7 separate regions of the Homo sapiens genome follow, and all the other regions are reported to be linked to region 2. The links are microRNA targets in miRTarBase. Many come from high-throughput screens and were not tested one by one. Region 2 holds a microRNA gene; each other region holds the end of a gene's coding sequence.
Evidence for each region. The annotated mature microRNA hsa-miR-548t-3p reads AAAAACCACAAUUACUUUUGCACCA and lies in region 2 at 2,127-2,151, shown strand. An mRNA with a match to its seed (bases 2 to 7 or 8) in the 3' UTR can be bound and repressed. Matches are read on the target gene's strand: a 7mer-m8 pairs with bases 2 to 8, a 7mer-A1 pairs with bases 2 to 7 and ends in A, and an 8mer does both.

Region 1: the mRNA of AP3B1 is a reported target of hsa-miR-548t-3p. The part of its 3' UTR that is shown has no 7-base or 8-base seed match.
Region 3: the mRNA of MYOZ3 is a reported target of hsa-miR-548t-3p. Seed matches in the 3' UTR shown: 7mer-A1 at 1,414-1,420.
Region 4: the mRNA of INHBA is a reported target of hsa-miR-548t-3p. Seed matches in the 3' UTR shown: 7mer-m8 at 1,578-1,584.
Region 5: miRTarBase lists KIF23 as a target of hsa-miR-548t-3p. Seed matches in the 3' UTR shown: 7mer-A1 at 1,990-1,996.
Region 6: miRTarBase lists TMX3 as a target of hsa-miR-548t-3p. Seed matches in the 3' UTR shown: 8mer at 831-838 and 8mer at 849-856.
Region 7: the mRNA of SLC30A4 is a reported target of hsa-miR-548t-3p. Seed matches in the 3' UTR shown: 7mer-m8 at 1,297-1,303 and 7mer-m8 at 843-849.

Annotation. Positions count from the first base shown.
Region 1 is chr5:78,000,342-78,003,426 of GRCh38, forward strand. It overlaps AP3B1 (adaptor related protein complex 3 subunit beta 1), which reads right to left. Exons shown (of 27, transcript NM_003664.5): 27 at 1,985-2,714. The coding sequence ends at 2,561. Among named protein-coding and RNA genes, the nearest start is that of TBCA, 230 kb to the left of the region's middle.
Region 2 is chr8:123,345,962-123,349,060 of GRCh38, forward strand. It overlaps MIR548AA1 (microRNA 548aa-1), which reads left to right and starts at 2,073; the gene lies at 2,073-2,169. ATAD2 (ATPase family AAA domain containing 2) reads right to left here. Exons shown (of 28, transcript NM_014109.4): 15 at 2,222-2,312; 16 at 1,131-1,445; 17 at 657-789; 18 at 125-311. MIR548D1 (microRNA 548d-1) reads right to left here and starts at 2,169; the gene lies at 2,073-2,169.
Region 3 is chr5:150,676,492-150,679,491 of GRCh38, reverse strand. MYOZ3 (myozenin 3) reads right to left here. Exons shown (of 7, transcript NM_001122853.3): 7 at 124-2,785. The coding sequence ends at 2,617. Among named protein-coding and RNA genes, the nearest start is that of MYOZ3-AS1, 5.5 kb to the right of the region's middle.
Region 4 is chr7:41,686,790-41,689,888 of GRCh38, forward strand. INHBA (inhibin subunit beta A) reads right to left here. Exons shown (of 3, transcript NM_002192.4): 3 at 1-3,099. The coding sequence ends at 2,861. Among named protein-coding and RNA genes, the nearest start is that of INHBA-AS1, 5.6 kb to the right of the region's middle.
Region 5 is chr15:69,447,138-69,450,218 of GRCh38, reverse strand. KIF23 (kinesin family member 23) reads right to left here. Exons shown (of 24, transcript NM_001367805.3): 24 at 1,794-2,427. The coding sequence ends at 2,412. Among named protein-coding and RNA genes, the nearest start is that of RPLP1, 4.1 kb to the left of the region's middle.
Region 6 is chr18:68,674,155-68,677,253 of GRCh38, reverse strand. TMX3 (thioredoxin related transmembrane protein 3) reads left to right here. Exons shown (of 16, transcript NM_019022.5): 16 at 61-3,099. The coding sequence ends at 321. Among named protein-coding and RNA genes, the nearest start is that of TMX3, 39 kb to the left of the region's middle.
Region 7 is chr15:45,482,589-45,485,687 of GRCh38, forward strand. It overlaps SLC30A4 (solute carrier family 30 member 4), which reads right to left. Exons shown (of 8, transcript NM_013309.6): 8 at 1-2,729. The coding sequence ends at 2,575. The region is part of intron 3 of SLC30A4-AS1 (SLC30A4 antisense RNA 1); the gene reads left to right. Among named protein-coding and RNA genes, the nearest start is that of SLC30A4-AS1, 35 kb to the left of the region's middle.

The DNA.
Region 1 (3,085 bases), not on the chromosome of region 2:
GAACAAGTCAGGGGAAAGATCTTAGGTTCTCTTTTAGCTGGTCCAACTTTTCTTTTTTTGAAATCTTCCATCAGTCTGGATTCTTATCTTGTCTAACATCTAAATTCTTAACAACGGGAACACAGGTTATAAGGGCAAACGTTTTGTAAGCTATAAAGTTATTCATACGTTTGCAAATAGTTATCGAGAAGGACAAGTATACAGTATTTTAATTTGAGAAATGCATTGTTACAGTCTCTTTAGAATAAAAAAACTCTCATAATAAATAAAGCAAATGTATTGTGATATCAAAAATGAGGCTTAGTCTGAAATATACTATGAGAGCCATTCTTCAAGATTGGTGTACATAAAATGTCCCATTAAGTGAACATTAAAATGAAAAAATATAGCTAGAATTAAGAATTCAACATTGACTAACTCGACTCAATGGAACAATTTAAAGATAATCATGGATTATGACAAAGTTAAAGGAAATATGAGGCAAGGAACTCTGAATCACCACACCACAAAAGAAAAAAAACCAAACCTTTAACTTGGGGCTTTGGTCGTTTTTCTGTTTTACGTGAAAAACATTTTAATGATATTAAGCTACTAGTGTTAAAATGGTTTCAACTGGTAGCGCACATTACAATCGATACATACTGTTCACTGATTCATACTACATTATATTATTGATTTACCATAATTTTAAAAGTTAGCAGCCAAAAATAACTTAGTCAAAAGTAAAGCCCTAATTAAATTTCCTTAGTTTAAAAAAATACAAATGTGTGAACTATCTTTTAAAGATGAGTGTCCTAATTTAAGGAAAAATAAGACCTTTCTCAATCACAACATGCACTTTCCCTCTGCCTGAAGACAGCATGGATATAATTTTTTTTTCTTCCTCAGAAAACAGGTATTAAACCTGTCAAATTCTGTCTGACATTTCAAAAAGTTATTGACTTAAAATTCAAAGTTATGAAGCTCTGAGCAATAAGGCTAATATGGAAATGCCAACGACCTGCGATTACAAAGGGGCTTTTGGGTGTGTTACCACAGCGCCCAGGCTCCAGAGGGAAGTGGAACTCGTGGCTTCCATACATTGGTACAGAATGGTACAGAATGTACACATGGTACGGAATTGGCACAAAATGTACACGTGGCTTCTGTACATTGCACTTCTGTACATTCTCTTCCCGGAGATTCAGGGCTATATTTCTTTCTGGAGCAGGAAAATTTAACAATTTTGTTTACTCTTGTCATCCCACCAGCTTGAAAATTTAAATAATTTTTCGACTCTGTTTTGTTCTTTTCAATATGTATGTTCCAAGAAAATTCCATTCTTTTCTTTTCAGCCTTCCTATAATGCTTCAAGCAATGTACAGTCACTTCCTTTTTACTTTTTAAAAATCATTATGTATGTGGCTCTATACAAAAAGAACTGAGTAGCTTATACTACCTGAAAGTCCATTACCTTGCTTCAAAAAGGAAGTAAAATTTCAGCTGGTTTTAAAAAGGTACGAAAGTATTAGAAAAGTTCTCTGATTATAGAACAACCTTGAAAACAGTAACTTAAGGTAGCAAATAAAACAAATACTCTAGGAAAAGATGCTAATAGGTTGATCATATAACTAGTTTTAAACATTTCTATAAGTTTATGCTAGTTAGTTTCCAAAGTTGGGCATAAGGAAAAATGAGATTCAAAGAATTTATTCAGCAGGCCACATAATCAGATATCTACTAATAGATCAAAACTACCTAGAAGATGTTTATTTTGCAATATGAAGATTTTTGTTTTTGTTATTAAATACACCAATTTTTTTTCCTTGGAGTAAACTATAAGTAGAAAATTTACTTGGTTTGGAAGTGGTTTTTCTTTCGCTAACTAAACCACATTGCTTCTCTGCATAATGTAACACTCAAAATACTTGCTTTAAAATAAGAAAACTTTAGCATATGAACTTCAGGATTATTAATAGTTTCTCATTAAAAATGCAAAGACAAATATGATTCATATGCTAGTTTATTTATCTTATTATTGAGAGATAATTTCATGATGACAGTTATCAATAATCAATTACAATATCAAGAAATTCAAAGAACAAAATCTTGCAGAGACTATGCTTTTGTATTTGGATTTAAAAAGTATGTGATCTCATTTTCACATACCAAGCTGAGAGGCCATTTAGACTATCTCTTTGCTAATTTTTGCTTACTGCTGTAGGGAAGAAGATTTCCAATGAACTTTAAATATCTCATTCATGTCTACCATTGTCGAAAAAGAGAAGGAAAACGAGGAGGCCAAAAGAAGCAGCAGGACAGAGAAAACGCCACATGGATTCAAGAGTTGAGACAACTGACAGTAAAATATATGCTCTTTGGTTAGCAAAGCAAAAAGGGGGAAAGTATTGCATACATGATAGATACACACTAGCATTCTAAAGCAGGAGACAAGAATGTCAAGAGTGTATTCTACCCCCACTGCCAGATGGAAGGGCTATTATTATAAATGAAAGGCAGCAGTAGTGGATGCCAGGCACTTTTGTTGTGTGCCAGATTCTAAAGTCCAGATGTAAGCAGGTTACCCCTGAGACAGGACAGGCTTCAGTTCCCGCAGCAGAACAGAGCCAATCACAGTTTTCTCAGTGTTTATGATAAGCTGGGCTGTAGAGCCTTCCTTCAGTTCCACTGTGACTAGCATCAATGACCCACTGTGCACAGTTTTAGCTGCAAACCTGGAAGAGAAAAAAGAGAGACCTTTTATCATAAGATGGGGAGGGTAAAGGAGATAGCATACATTCAAATAGGATTAAAATAACTCTTTTTTGTCAAATGAAATAATTTGCTGCAGGCTCCCTATTGCCAAAAACCCAAAGCCAAGCATTCTTCTGAAAAATCAATAAACTGTCCAGCCCATGCTAACCACAAGCAGGTAATTTTAGTGCACATTTAAAACAGAACAGAAAAAGGAAGTCTATTTTACTTATTAGTTTAAACAATAGATGCATGTGAATAATTCTCCATTACAATATATTTGAGAACCATTCATCCACTTGGTATTTAACATTTCACCATGCATAGGGACATTTTAAATAAGCCATTGTAT
Region 2 (3,099 bases):
CTGTTTTGTAAACCTAAAGTTACAAATCAGAAAGACAAAAAAACACAATACAAAAAAATGGGGCAATTTTAGCTTTTGCCTCTGAAAGCCTGTTTTGTCTTATACTTGGGCACCAACAAATTACCTGGGCACATGTTTCTTCAGGGGATGTAGTACTAACTCCAAAAAGAACAGGAATGTCTAATGTATATACAGTAAACTTTTCCAAAGCATGAATGACAGCTGGTGCCAAGTGAGAACCTTGCCCAAATCCTGGTTCTCCTACTATCAATATTCTTGGTCGAAAAGACATAGGTTGGTAACAAGCATTTCTGAAAGAGAAATGATTAATAAGCTATGTTTTAGAAAAAACAGTTTAAATTTTCCCCCTAAATTGTCAACTATAAACTTTCATAAGTAAAAAGTCTTGCCAATAAGGCCAACCAATCATAACATGGTTCACATAGTTTCTGGAAACTGACCCCCAAAGGTTTTTAGGAATATTTTTATAGACTGTAATTTCTACTGTTGTGACAACTGTAACAACAAAAAATTTCTGGTAGTTTAATTTAAATAAAAAGCAGATTGGTTAGCACTTTTTATTTTTTCAACCACATCTCATTTATTTTTAGAAAATTTACACATGCAAAAAACATTGATTTGCAAGAAAAATATACCTATTCAAATGAAGAAAATTAAAATTGTCTTTTGCCTTATGAGAAGATTTCTGAGAAAGTCCATTTTCATAAACTGATGGAACATCATCATCACTGTAAGCCAAGTCACTTTCTAGCAGAGGACAAGAAATATCTATAAAACCAAAAAATTGTACATTAGTAACTTTTGGATTGCAAAGCAAATCTTTATTGCTTCAGTTACCAAGTCAGCATACTTCAATTAAATTTTTTCAAAGAATCAAAAATATTTGTGTAGATATGAATTAATAAGTAAATGTAAAAATGCACCCCAAACTTACAATAAGTTAAATTAAGGGCAATCCATGGAGTAAATTTCCTTCAAATATCCCAGGTAAAGCATTACCAAATTCTTTTCAAGAGATTCTTTTACAAATAAATATTTCTGGTATGTATGAAACATTTCACTTTACTGATTATAAAAACTAACTTTAAATGGTCAATCAAGTTTTATACCTGAGTCTAATGTTTTATTTGTTCTGAATTCTGCATGTGGAAATACTCTCTGCAGGGCTTCTAAAATCTTGTCAACAGTGTTTTGCAGGAGTGGTTTCACAACGGTGGACAGTGCCTGCCCAGGTGATGTCACAGCTCTTTGGGAGGCTGGTATCATCTTTTGCATAGCTACCTCGAAATCCTTAGCTGAGATATTAATTGAAGAGAGATCCAACTGCAGTTTCTCACTAGTGGTATAGATCTGTGGGTAGCGTCGTCGTAAAGCACATAAAGCAGCTTCAGCACATATTGATTTAATATCTGCTCCACAGTATCCTATCCAAAGCAACCAGGGGAAGAAAAGAACCAGCCGACCAAACAAAGAAACACAAAACTCTATTAGCATGACCATGGTTAAAAAAAAAATTAAAAATCAGCCTCGGAATATAGTTAGCAAATATTTAAGAGTAATAAGACCAAAATCTCTTTTACCCAGTAAACTTATAGGGTAGTAATGGCCATCAACAATCAATCAACTTTTAAGAGTGCAATACACAAGCACTAAGTATAGCACAGAGGTCAAAAGCAAGAGTTTTAAAATCACACAGACTAGATTCACATTCCAGTTTGTAATTTACTAGCTGTATGACCTTAGAAGATTCACATAATGCTCTCCAGCCATTTCTTCATCTGTAGAGATACTGCTACCTACATCACAGGAATGATGTGAAAATTACATGAAATAATATATGTAAAATGCTTAAAAGGATGACTACAAAATGGTCAGTAAAGAATAGCTATTATCTTATTATGATATAATAATATATTGTATTTTGTACAATTATATTATTATCTACTCTGCCCCTGATGGCCAATTTGTCAAATATCTCTATTTAATACCAAGACTTCATGAGAAGAAAATGCCACAAATAAGAGATAAGAAACAAATATAACCTTGTATTTCTTTATTAGTCTGGTGCAAAAGAAACTGTGGTTTTTGCCATTACTTTTACAGGCAAAAACCACAATTACTTTTGCACCAACCTAATATAACTTGTTTCATATTTGAAATAAATGTAGTATTTATTTTAACTGCTTAAAACAATGTTTACCAACACAGTTTTCTGCTAGCTCTTCTAAAAATGTGTCCAGTGGTTTGGGATTCCAATCCCTGGTGTGAATCTTTAGAATCTCTTTTCGAGCCTATGAATAAAAACAATTTAATTTTTTACAACTATAATAATAAATGCTATTCAGATTACATTAATTTTGATTAAAATACTTTTGATTATCTAAAATTTTAAAGTGATCAGTACTTAATACTGGCCGGGTGCGGTGGCTCACACCTGTAATCCCAGCACTTTGGGAGGCCGAGGCAGGTGGATCACTTGAGGTTGGAAGTTCAAGACCAGCCTGGCCAACATGGTGAAAACCACTCTCTACTAAAAATACAAAGATTAGCTGGGCGTGGTAGCATGTGCCTGTAATCCCAGCTACTTGGGAGTCTGAGGCACGAGAATTGCTTGAATCCCGGGGACGGAAGTTGCAGTGAGCTGAGATTGTGCCACTGCACCCCAGCCTGGGTGACAGAGCAAGACTTTATCATAAACAACCAACCAAAAAAACTCAATATAAGCAAAATATGAAAGTGAAAATAAGAAAAAGGATGTACTTTTAAGAGTTTAATGAACTTAAGTCTCATTATTAAACATATTTGCATTTATAGCACTAAAGTTATATTCGTCATAAACACAAATAAGAGAAAAGTAACTACTAAAGTAGCTATTCATTCTGGTGCATATTAAGAGCTGTTTTTAAGAGTACAGACAGCTCTTGACATATTTTCCTCTTTGGTTCCCAGAAGATTAAGTAGACTTAAAAAAACTCGGTAGGATTATATGATGATATTCATGAAAAAGACAAGGCTAACAAACTGGCTAAGGATTGATTACTCATTAAGCCATATGTTCTGAAGCAACACTTAGAACAT
Region 3 (3,000 bases), not on the chromosome of region 2:
TCTACAATTCTAGAAGGACCAAATTGTCATCAGTGGTTACCTCTGGTGTGTAGGAATGGCAGAGGTAGGAAGGTGTACATATGTATGTGGGAGGACTATGTGGGCAGACACTTCACATTTTACTCCTTGCTTATTATTATTTTTTTATTTTTACAATGAGCATTCTTTTTTTTTTCTTTTTTACAACACCAGAAAAAGTCACATTCTCAGAAGAAGAAAGGATTTGTTTTGGGTGCAGTGGTCTCCCCACCAGGCTCCTTTTCATACCTGGTGGCTGCAGTTACTTTCCAGAGCACAGCAGAACCAACCTGAGGCAACTGGAGTCCTCTTGTCTACTTTTCAGATTCTTGAATGGCTGGTCTTCAGCTCATGGAAACCTGGCTTTAAATGGCAGCCCCCAAATTCAAGAGAAAACACCAATTGCAAGCAATTCTAAAAGTCAGGCCATTGGGCCCTTGGGACCCAGAAGGGGAGTGAAACTCCAGAGCAAAAGGAAAATGCAATCGCTATCCCACACACCCTGGGAATGGGCTGGACTCCTGACCTTCCCCATCGCCCCCAGAGAGAGAGGCAGGGAGAGCTCTACAGCAATGAGAGGCTTTCCTTCAGGCTTCAGCTTTAGTGACCCCCAGTGACATCTTAGCAGCCAGCTTCTCATGCTGCATCCAGTGCAAGAACAACTTTTCCAGCCTAGAGCAGCAGTTGCATGAAACCTACCATTGACTGAGCTCTTATTATAAATGTGCCCTGCACTGTGTTCACAACAAACCCATAAAGGAGGTTTTATACTTGTCCTCATCTTACACTTGGAGAAACAGAGGCTCGGAGATGTGAAATGACTTGCTCAAGTTCATCCGGCTAGCAGTGGCAGAGTTAGAACCTACCCCATCCAGTCTGACTCCCAAGCCTGCACTCAACTTCTAAACTCCAAGGCAGGGCATCACAGTCAGATGATTTCAGAGCGAGTGGGCATTGACCACCCAGTGCACTGAAAAGAGACATCCACTGGAATCAGATTCCCATTTGGTGTCTGCCCCTGGACAAGTCACTTCCTCCTTTTGGCCTAAATATCCACATCTGTAAAGTGGGGACAACAATATCTTTCTCTCAGGGTTGTTCTGAGAATTAGAAATAAGATATGTAGAGAAACTACTACCAGCCCAAGCACTGAGGCACTCGATATAAAGCTGCCATCATCATCATCATCATCACCACCACTTTAAGCAGCCTGCTCAAAATGGAGTGGAAAGAAGGAATCTTAATAAGCACCCCACTTTGCACCTGTCCTGTTAGGTGCCCAGTGGGTGGCCCCTTCTCTCCATTCCCATGGCCTCATCCCTTGCAGGCTTCCTGGCTTCTGGCATTACCCTTCTCCAATATGCGCCCCACACAGCACCCAGCAAGACCCATCACTAAAACCTTCCCCATTTCCTTAGTGAAGCCCACCCCATGCTGGCCCTCACTGGCTCCTCTAGCACAGCCTTCTCCCTTCTGCAGAACACCCTGCACCCGTGCTCAGTTCCATATTTTTGCACATGCTGGTCCACTTTCCAGAAATACCCTCCCCCTCACACCCCCTTCATGGACTCTCACGCCTCCCACAAGGTCCCACTCAAATCCTTCAGGAAGCTTCCAGAATCCCATCTCACACCTAGGGTGAGGGACTCCTTCTTCTGCTCCACAACACTTTGTTCCTCAATTGTCAATAAGCATGCTTTAGGGAAAATTATGGTGACTTCATGCTCTATAATGTCTTCCCTACTGTCTTTTCCTCCTCGAGGCCCGGGCCTGGCAGTGTCTAGCGCACAGTCAGCGCTTAGGAACTGTTTAGAGCATGAATAGATGAAGACCAACTGCATCTCAGTAAAAGGAACATTTTCTAATTATTTGAGTTATTCACAGGAAGATGGGGTGCCAGTGAGCACCCTGTCACCGGGGGAGTGTACACTACAGGAACAGGAAAGAGCAGAGGTGTGGATGTGGACTCCTAATGACACAAACCATGGATAAGTTATGCTGGAATCACCTGGAGTACTGGTTGCTATTTATTTATTTACTTTTGAGAAGGAGTCTCACTCTGTTGTCCAGGCTGGGGTGCAGTGGCGCAATCTCGGCTCACTGCAACCTCTGCCTCCTAGTTCAAGTGATTCTCCTGTCTCAGCCTCCCAAGTAGCTGGGATTACAGGCATGCACCACCATGTCCGACTCATTTTTGTATTTTTAGTAGCGACGGGGTTCCACTATTTTGGCCAGACTGGTCTCAAACTCCTGACCTCAGGTGATCCTCCTGCCTCGGCCTCCCAAAGTGCTGGGATGACAGGCGTGAGCCACGACACCCGGCCCTGGTTGCTATTAATAATACAGATTCCTCGACTCAGGAGACTCTGATGCTGCAAGTCTGGGACAGTCCAGTTGTCTGGATTTGGAACAACATCCCCAGGTAATTTTGAAACACACCCATGTTTTGGGACGACTGAACTTGGTGACCTCTGAAGCCATTTGCAATCAGGTTTTGTGTGTGAAGGCCCTTCTTCAACTGTGAAGTGCTGTCCACAAGTCTTGGCTCCGGATGTTACCAGGCCCCCGAGACTGGGGAACTGAAGATTCAGGCTAGGGCTACAGCTCCTCGGACTCTGGGAGGTTACGGACCCAGCCCTGGGCCACTCTGTTGAAGCTGGGTCTGAGACGGAGGAGTTCCAAGCCACTGAGGGGCTCCGGGATGAAGGGGGTGCCTGGCCTGGGAAAAGTGCCCCCCACGAGGGGTCCTCCAAATGGCACCGGGGTCCTGGAGAAAGAGAGCAGCAGGAGAGGTGGGCTGTGTGGAACAGGGACAGCAGTACACTGACATGTGGATCACCATGTATGGGCCCCTCCCTGCCGCTCTCTGAGCCTCAGTTTTCCCTTCTATACAGCAAGATTCTGTACATCTTTTTTTTTTTTTTTTTTTTGAGACAGAGTCTCGCTCTGTCACCCAGGTTGGAGCGCAGTGGGGTGATCTCA
Region 4 (3,099 bases), not on the chromosome of region 2:
TTGAGATGAGTGGGAACTATACATGGGTATCAGCTTTCTTGGTAAATTTCTGCTTTTTCCATGGCCTTGACCATCTTTGCTACTGCGCAGTGAACCAGGACTTAATTTCTCACACTGTTTCTGCAGGTTCCGGTACCAAAGAAGATGCAGTTCAAAATACTGCCAGTTTTCCAAGAAATTTTGTAAAGTTGAACATGGCCATCTACTCTTGCCTTAAAACTTTTCTCACCACACCCACCTTCCCACATGCATGATATCCAAGGTCGACAGACCTGGATTAGAATCCACTCTCAAGCTTCTCATGCAGTGCGTATTGTATTTTCTGCATAAGAAAGGGCTGCCTCTAGAACACAGTAAGTGTATTTGCCCAGTAGTGACATTGCCTACATATAGCCAAGTGTTATAGTATACCAACTTAGTATATTTTTCAAGGAGAGCTAAACCACCTTTTGTAATGTTTGGTTTCTCACTGTTATCTTCCTTTCCTATAATTAATTTATTTTAATCTACAAATTGACATAGGGCTAAAAGCTTCAATATTTTACAAAATATTAATTAATGTAATTGTTCCCAATTATTAGAAACTTTTTTCCATTTTTCAAAATGTTTGCCAACTTCACACAAGTGTGTAAAAATAGGGCTCTGGATTTTCAAAAGCACATACATGAATAATTTATTAGCTATTCCAGGCAAGCTAAGTACTAGAATAAACTAGATAAAAACTTGGCTTTAAGCATGTACTTTGATATTTATAAAACAAAGGTGTTTTTTTTTCATTTCTGCATCTGAATCAATACAAATTTACACATGAAGAATTTTGGCTGTAAATTAAAATTTTAGAGATTTTTACTACTGCCCTCACCTCTGCCTCCTCTTAACTGTTCTCTTCCTTACTCTCCCTCTCTTAACACTTTCTCTCAAATTAATTATCTTTTAGTTAGTGATGACATTATTTTTCCCAGCTGGTACAGGTAATATTTCTCACAACCAAGCCTTAATCATTTTTAAAAAATACACTCAACTCTAATTCTGGCCTAAATATTATTTTTCTGAAAAAGCTTCTGATTTAAGATTGATTCCAATAGACACTAAGTTGGAAAAACATCAGCCCAGAGTTTTGATTATCATCCTGTTTTCCCCACAGGGGATAACTTGTAGAAGTGGGAGGGGGCACAAAAAAGAGGAGGAAATTTGATCCCTGTACAATGAAAGAGGGCCTTGCTGAATATTCACTGGAATTTCCAGGCTTTTTCCCATCCGAATTTTTGAAATGCGCCCACCTAGTTCAGAGTAAAAGCAAAAACTATAGCCTATCCTTCTTAAAAATACTGTGTTTTGCACACAAACATTCATTGCTTTAAGAACATTAAAAAATGACAGCCTGAAGTGCTTAAAATGTGTATGGACATGGTACAATACATGTATATATACATACAGATATGCATATGCACAAGCAATGTATATATACACATACAAGCATGTAGTTCCATGAATTTGATTGAACTTGATATCCAACAGTGTACAACTACTGTACATCCAGTATGAAATGTCCTGTTTCATGGATGTAAAAGGAGTCAAAAACCAAACTTCTCAGGTCTTTTAAGCCTGAACACAATCCACACTACTCAACCTTGAATCCCAACCCCTGACTCATTGATGGTGAATGATACCAACCACAGACAGACTGTTTAAAGGCTCACACAAATGTCTTTGGTGTATGTGTCTATTTTTTAAGGTACAAAATAATAATAATAATTATAATTATAATAATAAAAATAGCTATTTTGTGTGCTGTAGCAGTTCTTTTATAGCTCACATTAAGTGCAGCTCTTAAACCCCACCCCCACCCCCAACCAAAGAAAATACTTGTTAAATAAGGATTAGACAGGTCAAACACCATTGTAGTGCAAATAGTAAACGATTAAAAAAAAAACAACAACAACATTTACAAAATATAGAAATGTTTGGATCCAACAGATGGACAAACATATTCCTTTCAAGTATCTCTCCTTGAAGAAAATAAAAATTAATCAGATTACTTCCAATACAAAAAAGTCTCTCTTTTTGTTCTCTCTCAGGTAAACAGTTTCAAACCTATTAGGTTGCATAGTTCTAAGATCATAAGCACCTTAACGAAATGTAACTTGGTATTCTTTTTTCCTTGATCTTTCATTCTTTCCATACTTGTTCTCAATTTTTTAATGTTGTTTGTTTTGTTTTGTTGCAAAAGTGGTACAGAAAAAGGAAGTGTGACCACCTGCACACGATTGTTCTTTTACCAGTATGTGTATATATGTAATGTGTGGAAATGCCTGTGTGTGTGTGTGTGTGTGTGTGTGTGTGTGTGTATGCTGATATACACAGAGATAAGTGTCACACAGACATACCTTATGACCTGGGTAATTGGGTAGGAAAGTGCCTGTGATGGGCCCTTTCAAACTCATGGCTTTCTAGATGCTATTTGGGTTGTTCTAGTCCACACTACTGCAGACTAGATTGGTTGATTCAAGGCTCACAAGGGAACCTCAAGGGGGGAAAGGACAATACCCCGTTTAAACAACTGATGTCATCAGTGTGATTTCAGAAGAAATAAAGGGTACACCATTCTCCCTTTCCCTCCCAATTCCTGTCTCTTTCACTGCTTCATCTCTGAGCCCTGGCTAAGGATTTTTTCCACATCTTCCTTCATCTGTTTCATCAGGTTTTGTTTTTAATTTACTTTTGTTTTTTTTTGTTTTTTTTTTTGTTTTGTTTTTAATTTCTATTTTTCTGGTTAACTCAGAAACCTTAAAAATTTCTTCATTTTGCCACTGTCTTCTCTGGACAACTCTTGCTCCCTTTCCCCCTGGGCTGGGCAACTCTATGAGCACCCACACTCCTCCACGATCATGTTCTGAATGTCCTTTTTGATGATGTTTTGACCATCATCATAGTACAACATGGACATGGGTCTCAGCTTGGTGGGCACACAGCACGATTTGAGGTTGGCAAAGGGGCTATGGCCCCGCATGCGGTAGTGGTTGATGACTGTTGAGTGGAAGGACAGTGAGGACCCGGACGTGCCTGCTATATGGCTCGGGCACTCACCCTCGCAGTAGT
Region 5 (3,081 bases), not on the chromosome of region 2:
ACTCCTGACCTCAAGCCATCCTGTTTCAGCCTCTCAAAGTACTGGGATTACAGTTGTGAGCCACCATGCCCGGGCTGTCTCTATTATTTTAAATAATAATTTAAAAAGCAGGCTGGGTGCTGTGGCTCATGCCTGTAATTCTAGCACTTTGGGAGGCCAAGTCGGGAGGATTGCTTGAGGCCAGGAGTTTGAGACCAGACAAGGCCACAGAGCAAGGCCCCATCTCTACAAAAAATAAAAAATTAGCCAGGTGTGCTGGCATTTGCCTGTAGTTGCAGCTACTCAAGAGGCTGAGGTGAGAGGATTGCTTGAGCCTGGGAGGTTGAGACTACAGTGAGCTGTGATCATGTCATTGCACTCCATTTTGGGTGACAGAATGAGACCCCATCTCAAAAAAGAAAGAAAAAAGCCAGCCTAGGCAACATAGCAAGACACCAGCTCTACAAAAATATTTTTAAAAATTTAATTAGCTGGGCATGGTGGTGAGCACCTGTAGTCCCAGCTTCTTGGGAGGCTGAGGCAGGAGGATCACATGAATCCAGGAGTTTGAGGTTATAGTGAGCCATGATTGCACCACTGCATTTCAGCCTGGGCAACAGAGCAAGACCCTGTTTCTAAAAAAAAAACTTTAAGAAGAAAATCAAGAAATAAATTCTGTATCTACTGCAATAGCAATTTAACCTTTAGTGTCCTGAAGCGTTCTAAAAACACACATATAGGCCAGGTGCAGTGGCTCACGCCTGTAATCCCAGTACTTTGGGAAGCTGAGGAGGGCGGATCACCTGAGGAGTTCAAGACCAGCCTGACCAACATGGAGAAACCCCGTCTCTACTAAAAATACAAAATTAGCTGGGCCTGGTGGCTCATGCTTTTAATCCCAGCTACTGGGGAGGCTGAGGCAGGAGAATCGCTTGAACCCAGGAGGCGGAGGTTGCGGTGAGCCGAGATTGCGCCATTGCACTCAAGCCTGGGCAAGAGTGAAAATCCATCCCTCCCCTCAAAAACACACACACACACACATATATGACATTGTTTACTACTATACTGTGAGTGACTAGTGCATTTTGTCTTCTCCCTTAACTTTTGAGTTGGCTTTTGGCAAGGACTGATATCACACTTTTATTATTAATAACAAAAGATTAAACTATCATTTTAGTTAAAAAAAAAAAAAAGTGGCCGGGCACAGTGGCTCACACCTGTAATCCCAGCACTATGGGAGGCCGAGGCAGGTGGCTGAGGTTGGGAGTTCAAAACCAGTCTGACCAACATTAAGAAACCATCTCTACTAAAAATACAAAATTAGCTGGGCGTAGTGGCGCATGCCTGTAATCCCAGCTACTCGGAGGCTAAGGCAGAGGAATTGCCTGAACCCAGGAGACAGAGTTTGCGGTGAGCCAAAATCGTGCCATTGCACTCCAGCCTAGGCAACAAGAGCGAAACTCATCTCAAAAAAAAAAAAAGCTCAGCCTCAAAAGAAATCCAAATTAAATCCAAGTAAAATGTGTGTTCACCCATGCAATGGGATATTTCACCATGGTTTCGACAGTATTTTTTCTAATTTATGTTGTCCCCAAACTATGCTTTTTGTTTAAATGTCTAGAAGTCATACTTAATATGTAGATAATTATGGTTGTCACATAAAAAAAGGCATTGTCCGTTTAACATCATATTATCTTGTATTTTTTAGAGCTTTCTTTTAATTCATCCCGCAAACAATGAGTGCCAGGTAAATGCAGGGCACTGTGCCAGGTGCTGGGAGGACGTGTTGAATGAACAGCCATCACACAACTATGTATTTCTTAGTGCTTTTGATTTTAATTCTTTTGGCATATCTAAATGTCAGAAAGTGAATATATACATACAGAATTCAAAACACCTTCCTAAAATGGTTATTATTGGCCAGTCATTTACATCTTTATTTTGAAAGTCTGAATTGTCAAATAGTTCTAAAGTGCATTCTTGCAGCTAATAAATAGCAGCATTTGTTTATAAAACCTTAAGAAATTCAGACCAGGGCTGGAGAAGTCACAATAAAAAATCAGACATGATCTAGATATAGTCTTCCTTAATCATCTAAGACAAACACTTGTGTGAATTAGTTTATAAGTATACATGAAATATATTTTAAAAAAACATTATAAAAAATTCATACAGTGATGAAAAAAGGAGTCTTCCTCTGCTATTAATATTAAATATGGCAAAACATATACTATACAAGGTTTGTTGAATACTAGTTGTCTTTGGAACCATAGGGAAAGCTTTGCTCTGGGTCAGTGTATGATGTAGCTGAGGTCCGTGATTTTCAACAAAGCTGGAGTTCTACAAGATGACCTGGAAGACTGCTTCTGGCATGGCTTTCGAGAAATCATCCACACAAATGAAAATGTTCTTTCAGTACTGGGACTGTCAGTTCATGGCTTTTTGCGCCTAAAACATAACAACCAGCACTTAGAGTTGAACTTTGCAATTAGTAACACATTCATAGCAAATCAATCTTTAGGAGGCCTTTGAGAACTGCTGTTTTATGATGAGATAATTCAAGTCCCTCTGAGAAAGCAAACAACTTTTATAAAATATGCTTATCTTAGTATTAAATTTAGAAAGGATTTCCCATCTTTATCCTGCTGCAACAATTTTCTAAATTGCTCAGTAAGGTATGTAAATGTTTAAAATGTTATATACATATAACATTTTATATACATATATGTATATAACATGTGATATACATATATGTATGTATTTGTAAAGAAGGGATTTTATTAAAATATGGAAAAAGACTGGGTCAGACTCCTGAGTATAAGTTTAACAGAAGAAGAAAAGGTATGATTCCTTCCCTACTATAAATTCTTTCATTCAGTGTTATTTATTTTAGTGAACACCTATTGCTACACCAAGACCAAGAAGCAAGTCAGGAAACAATGATTTACACAAAGCTGTCTAGTCTCCAACTTAAGCCTTTAGCCTTCCCTCCTTAGAGGTACTCTCAGTTCAGCCTCAGAAAGCTTTATGAGCGTTGGCAGAATATGAACATGAGCCACCAATCTTCCACCACCGCCTGCCTTGCAGCTCTGATTGCTCTTA
Region 6 (3,099 bases), not on the chromosome of region 2:
CATGCTATATATATCAGAATTACATGTGAAGGGAACTGAGTTTTAATTCTCTTTCCACAGTCTATATTCAAGAGCTCACCACTGATGGGCTGCTTTCTCTTTGGCCTGCCACTGGGTGTCATCAGTATCATGTGCTATGGAATCTACACAGCCGACACAGATGGAGGTTATATAGAAGAACGATATGAAGTGTCTAAAAGTGAAAATGAAAACCAAGAACAGATAGAAGAGAGCAAAGAACAGCAGGAGCCCAGCAGTGGAGGATCTGTAGTGCCTACAGTGCAGGAGCCCAAGGATGTATTAGAAAAGAAGAAAGATTGAGACTTGATGACTATAAAATATTTGTTAGGACTTCAAATTATTAAAGAGTCTATTTATTGAATTTAGACATTTAATCATGATCTTTACAGAAAAGAACATGTTATTCGTATTTTGCTAATATCAACTGCATGGATTAAAGTAGTCCCTCCATACATGGGGAAGTGTTTGGAGCAAAGAGATGAACAGTTTGTCTGAAACAAACACAGAGCACTCCATCAAAATTTACCTGATCTTTGTGATTAGAACAGAACAATTCTATTTGCATGTTTCTCTATCTGAATATTCTGTGACAAAAAGTTAAGATTCTTGGGCAGAATATTTAAATTGGTCAGTCAGGTAGAAGATACATGTGTGATATAGAAAAATAATGCCTCTCCTGCTGCCATCCGTTTCCCTCATATATTTTGGACAAGATTTATATGGACAAAATTAAGTCTTTAAAATTTAGGCACTTTAAGGAGAACTAATAACTTTTTCCATGTATCAAGATTATGAGGTTAAAAATAATGTGGTTTTATATAGCATAGTGGTTTTATTTTGTTAGTTATTTTTAAAGGAGAAGAAATGTTACTTTTTAACTTTATACTCAGTTGCATTATCATAAAATTTTCATATATGCCTAGATAATGGGGAAAAAAAGTCTTGTGATTGACTTTCGCAAAATAAACAGGATTTACTGAGTAGAGGTTTCAGCCCATTCCTTGGAATACTAACAGGTATTTCATCAGTCATTGTAGGTTGGGAAGGGTCTCTGTTAATCCTACTCTGCTTTAGCCAGAATAGCCTAGTATTTTATTTCTATTTTATATATTGAGATTTCTTCTAACATTTCCTTTGATAAAAATCTTCTGCTTTTTGAAAAGTGGTATGTATCATATTTTTATGTTTCTGGTGTGTGAACTTTATGGTAACTTCTACTCTAGAATACGTACGTATGCACCCACAGACACACACAGTTTATTGACACATCTATTATGTAATGCTGTAGACCTGTCCGTGTCTGCTTCATAAGGAGTAACGACTGACATTAGCATGTCCAGTGACAAGTCACATCCGGTGTAAAAAAAAGAGATCAGCCAGTTACCTTCTCCATTGTCTTAGTTCTGTCACCCATTTCGTCAAGTGACCTCTCATCTTCTATAAACTAATACAGGAATTCTTTCCAAAGCAATGTCTAAAAACTCTTTTTTTTAAAGTAACAGTTTGGTATGTTTATTGTAGATAAATTATTTTTGAGGCCTTCATTTTAGCTAAGTTTAGAATTTATATTAGGCAACTATGATTTGAGTGGTTATTCATTGAGTAATTTTCCACTATAAAGAATTTTATTGAACATTTATTAAAAAATAATGTAATGCATGGTCAAAAAATATGTAATTCATGGTCTGGACACTGACGTTGTTTAGGGATTTAGTCATCAAGGACAGCCCTCTGTTGTTTCTAATGCCGTACTAATCAAGACTGTATGGACACTTGCATCTTAAGTACTAAGGAATTACTAGTGATTGTTTTATTTTATCCATGTACTCTTTTAGTATTTAATAATTAAATACCTATTCTTAGTGTTTGACACTCCATATTTCTTTTTTTTGGAAATGAAACAAATATGCAGTCCAAAATTCAGGAACTACTAGAGTGAAATGATATTAAGTGGAAACCAGAGATAAATGCTGTTAATTTAACAAGTAGATTCTTCTCCAAAGAATGATGAGTGATTCTTGGGAAGATAAATGTTAATGTTCCCAATAGTCAAGCTTGTTTTGCAGTAGTGAAAAGCTTAGATGAGTACGGATACCTCATTTGAAACTCAGCCTAGTAAGGAAGTGAAAACTTAGCAGTCAGTGACATGGGGAAATAGTTATAGAAAATGTCACTGAATTTTTTCATATTTATAATTAGTCATTTACATATTTTTGTCTTGTTGATCATTACCTGTAAATGAAAGACCTTAATAGGAAAAAAAGAGTAAAGCTCAGTGTGAATGCAAACATCCACAAAATATGATCTTCGTTTATATTCTGTGATGTTGTTTATAAATGAATGCCTCAGTTCTCTGCTACCCTTTTCACAGCTTTGTACTGTTTGCCTTATATTCTATTTGTGCTTTTAAAGTGTGTCTGTTGGGAAAACAAAATGTGTAGGTGGTTTGTAAGTGAATAATTTTTATTTCTTCTTGTATTAAAATTTTGTTTTTTTCTCTACTTTGGGAGATGTTTATTTACATTGTCAGACTATTCACAAAACAGATTCTAAAATTTGTTTGCTCGTATGCTGTTCCCTTCAATGTGATATCAGAGATTACTATGAATGTTAGTTTCATTCCGTGAAACATTACTTCCATATAAAGACAGATCTCTTAATAAGTGAATCTAGTGGAAGAACATAGGTATCATTCTAATTCCATGGTAAATTTTGTCATGATTCTATATGAATAATGGGGTCCTTCAGGAAGTTGGAATTTTTGCCTTCTCTTTTAATTGCAGTGAAGTTCTCTTTATAACTTCTAAAATTCGGAATTCTAGATCCTTGCTTTTGCAGAATTTGGTGCTCAGACAATATTTAAGGACATTTCAGCGAGACAAAGTGCATGTTTTTATCGAGTACCCTGTGCACCACATTATATCTGGCAATTCTTTTTGTTTCATTATGTGCATCAATATTTTTCTCAGCTACTATTACCTGAAACTTGTTTAACATGTATTAGACCTAGAATTTTCATTTTCTTTCTCACATAGTTGCTTCCTGGTATCTGATTTAGAAATAACATTTAAATGCCAA
Region 7 (3,099 bases), not on the chromosome of region 2:
ATTTTTTTCCTTTCTACTTGCTAGATACTCAAAGTCCATAAATATGTCCAGATGTCCACTGAAATATCTCTCATTTATTCTTACTTGGTTTCTATATGTAAGAATATTTTGATTTAAATAGTTTATATGCTCCTGAAATTTCTGAGAAATTCAAGTCATTATTTTAAATGACTTCACAATAGGAATCCCATCATGTATATTTTCTTTTCCTTTTTGTTTTTGAGATAGGGTCTCATTTTGTTACTCAGGCTGCAGTGCAATGGTGTGGACATGGCTCACTGCAGCCTCAACCTCCTGGGCTAAAGCACTTCTGCCACAGCCTTACAAGTAGCTGATACTACAGGTGTGCACGACGCCTGGCTGATTTTTATATTTTTGTAGAGACAGGGTCTCTACAAAAGACCAGGCTGGTCATGAACTCTTGGCCTCGAGGGATACTTCCACCTTTGCCTCCCCAAATGCTGAGATTACAGGCATGAGCCACTGTGTCTGGCCACATAAATTTTCAGTTCAATTCAACAAACATCTACTGGGTTTCATTAGAGGGACCATCAATCCTTTTATTGACACCATTAACTCCCAACAATCTTATAGGTAAATCTGGGTTTTCTTATCTTAGGTTTACTTATAGTAAGGTACTTGGTAAGAAGATAAAATGTTTCCTATTCTTCATTTATATTGTAAGTCATCTGCATGCTTATCTAGAATTTCAACTTACAATTTGCCTGGTACATTGTTACCCTACTCTGATTCTTAGAGGAGCCCAATAACCATATCCATTCTTCGTGTAAGAAACTGTCACTGTTGAAAAGGGACTCCAAATGTGCATAAAAGATAATCTCAAAACCAATGGTTGCAAAATGAAACATGAACAGTCAAGCTGCCTCTTTAACACAGGCATTTACAATTAGGTTGCCTTCAGTTTGGAAACCTCTGTTTAGTTTCCCTGCAACACAGATTTAATGTCCATCCCTATCTAGTGCTTTAAAACACACACATACAGGCCAGGCATGGTGGCTCATGCTGTAATCCCAGCACTCTGGAAGGCCAAGGCAGGCGGATCACCTGAGGTCAGGAGTTCAAGACCAGACAGGCCAATGTGGCAAAACCCTGTCTCTACTAAAAATACAAAAAAATGAGCTGGGTGTGGTGTACCTGTAGTCCCAGCTAGTTGGGAGGCTGAGGCAGAAGAATCACTTGAACCCAGGAGGCAGAGGTTACAGTGAGCAGAGGTCACGCCACTGCACTCCAGCCTGGGTGACAGAGTGAGACTCTCTCAAGAACAAAAACAAAAACAAAACCACACACATATATAAGGTCAAAAATCCTTTACATTTCTGTTTTCTCAAAGTAATATCTTCCCCCAACCCCTTGGACATTTCTGCTATGGTATTATTGGAAAACCTCAAAATTGTATTTTAGGGTTTCTGGAGTCCATGGAGAATCCCTAACCCATATCATAAAACATAAAATATATAATAAAACATAACCCATATCATAAAACATAAAATTCTCTCTGGATTAATGTTGTTGAACTATATGTGAAAGGTGGGAATTATAAACTGAACCCTCTAGAGTTTACCCTGAAAGGCTAAACACACAGATGACCTGGAGTGGAGGCAGGAACCAACGTACCACATTTTTTGTACAAATTGTTGGCAGTTCTTAAAGGGACAGAAGATTACTGTTTACATTTTGCAGTCTCTTGCTTTTTTAAGACAATTTCATGAATGATAAAAGTGATGTCGGGAAGACATAAACCTGAAACTCCAACCCCCATCCTCGCTCTTTTATTTTGTTTTAAATCATCATATAGTAATTTGAGTTTAAGACTAACTTCAGCCATTCAGAATAATATTGAAAGTATTTCCTAAATCATTTAATAACAGTGACCACAATAAATAAAGATTTGGTTCTAAGATTACAAATAATGAAAAATGTTAACTTTGAGATTCAAAACCCTGTAGCATCTGGAAAAGGTTGTTTATAAAGTATAATCATAACAATAACATTAAGACTTATGTGTGAAATAAAACATTTCTGAAACACTTAGGAATACATGCTTATTCCACTTTTGGGATAACTACTAGTACTTCCTGAAATCTGTTGGGTAGTAATTTCTGTAAAAAGAAAGCAGCAATTCCAGAAGCTGGGTGTCGAGATTATTATACATAATAAAAAAAATTCAGTTTTCCAGCACTGGCTTAATATAAAATGGCCTTAAAAAGTATTTTTAAATGCAAATATTGAATTCTTGATGCTTCCTTTAAGACACGTACTCTGTCAAGTTAATGAAGTATGATCTTGGATTGTCTTCTATGAGGTATCTGTAGAGTCACATCTCATTCTGTAAACAGTGTTTGGGAAACATCTTCATCTGAAAATTATGGCAAAGTCTCCTTTTACCATTAAACAGAGACTAGCACTGTCAGGCTGGGGCAACTGTTTGAGAGACTGATGCTTGATACGGACACAGCTGTCAGGGATTCCATTTTCTCATTTAGGTTTGCATTTATTGCTCTCAAGTCTGTGACTGCAGGATAAATAAGGCAGGAGTTCCCAAAATACATAAAATTAGGGACTAGAACTCTGACAATTTGCACAAGTTCTGTCCACTTCTTGCCTGTAACTCTGAAGCTGAATAGTACATCTATACATGCCAAATGTGTTCAATAATAAATGGTTTGCTTTGGACTGTACTTCCTCCCATTTAGATGAACTTCCAGGAACTGCAATGTCAAGAAAATATCATTACTATCCATTGTACAGTTACATCTTGAATAAGATACAGGGAAAAAAACAACTGAAATATACTGGGAATATATTTTTATTAGTCTGATTTCTACCCTCTCTAAGCTATTCTGTTAGATAAGTAGGTCAATTTACACATCCTTAATGGCTTCTCATTATTCTAACCTCTCCAGTCTACTCTCAGGTAGAGAAAAAATACCAGACATCAGTTACAAACCTGTCATTAAAATATCTTGTGCACATTAAAAGTAAACCTCATGCATGTATTATTTTGATTTAAAAAGCATCAATAGCATCAATCTGTGAAATGACTTGAAGAAATAAAAATGTAAGAATCTAGCTTTTCCT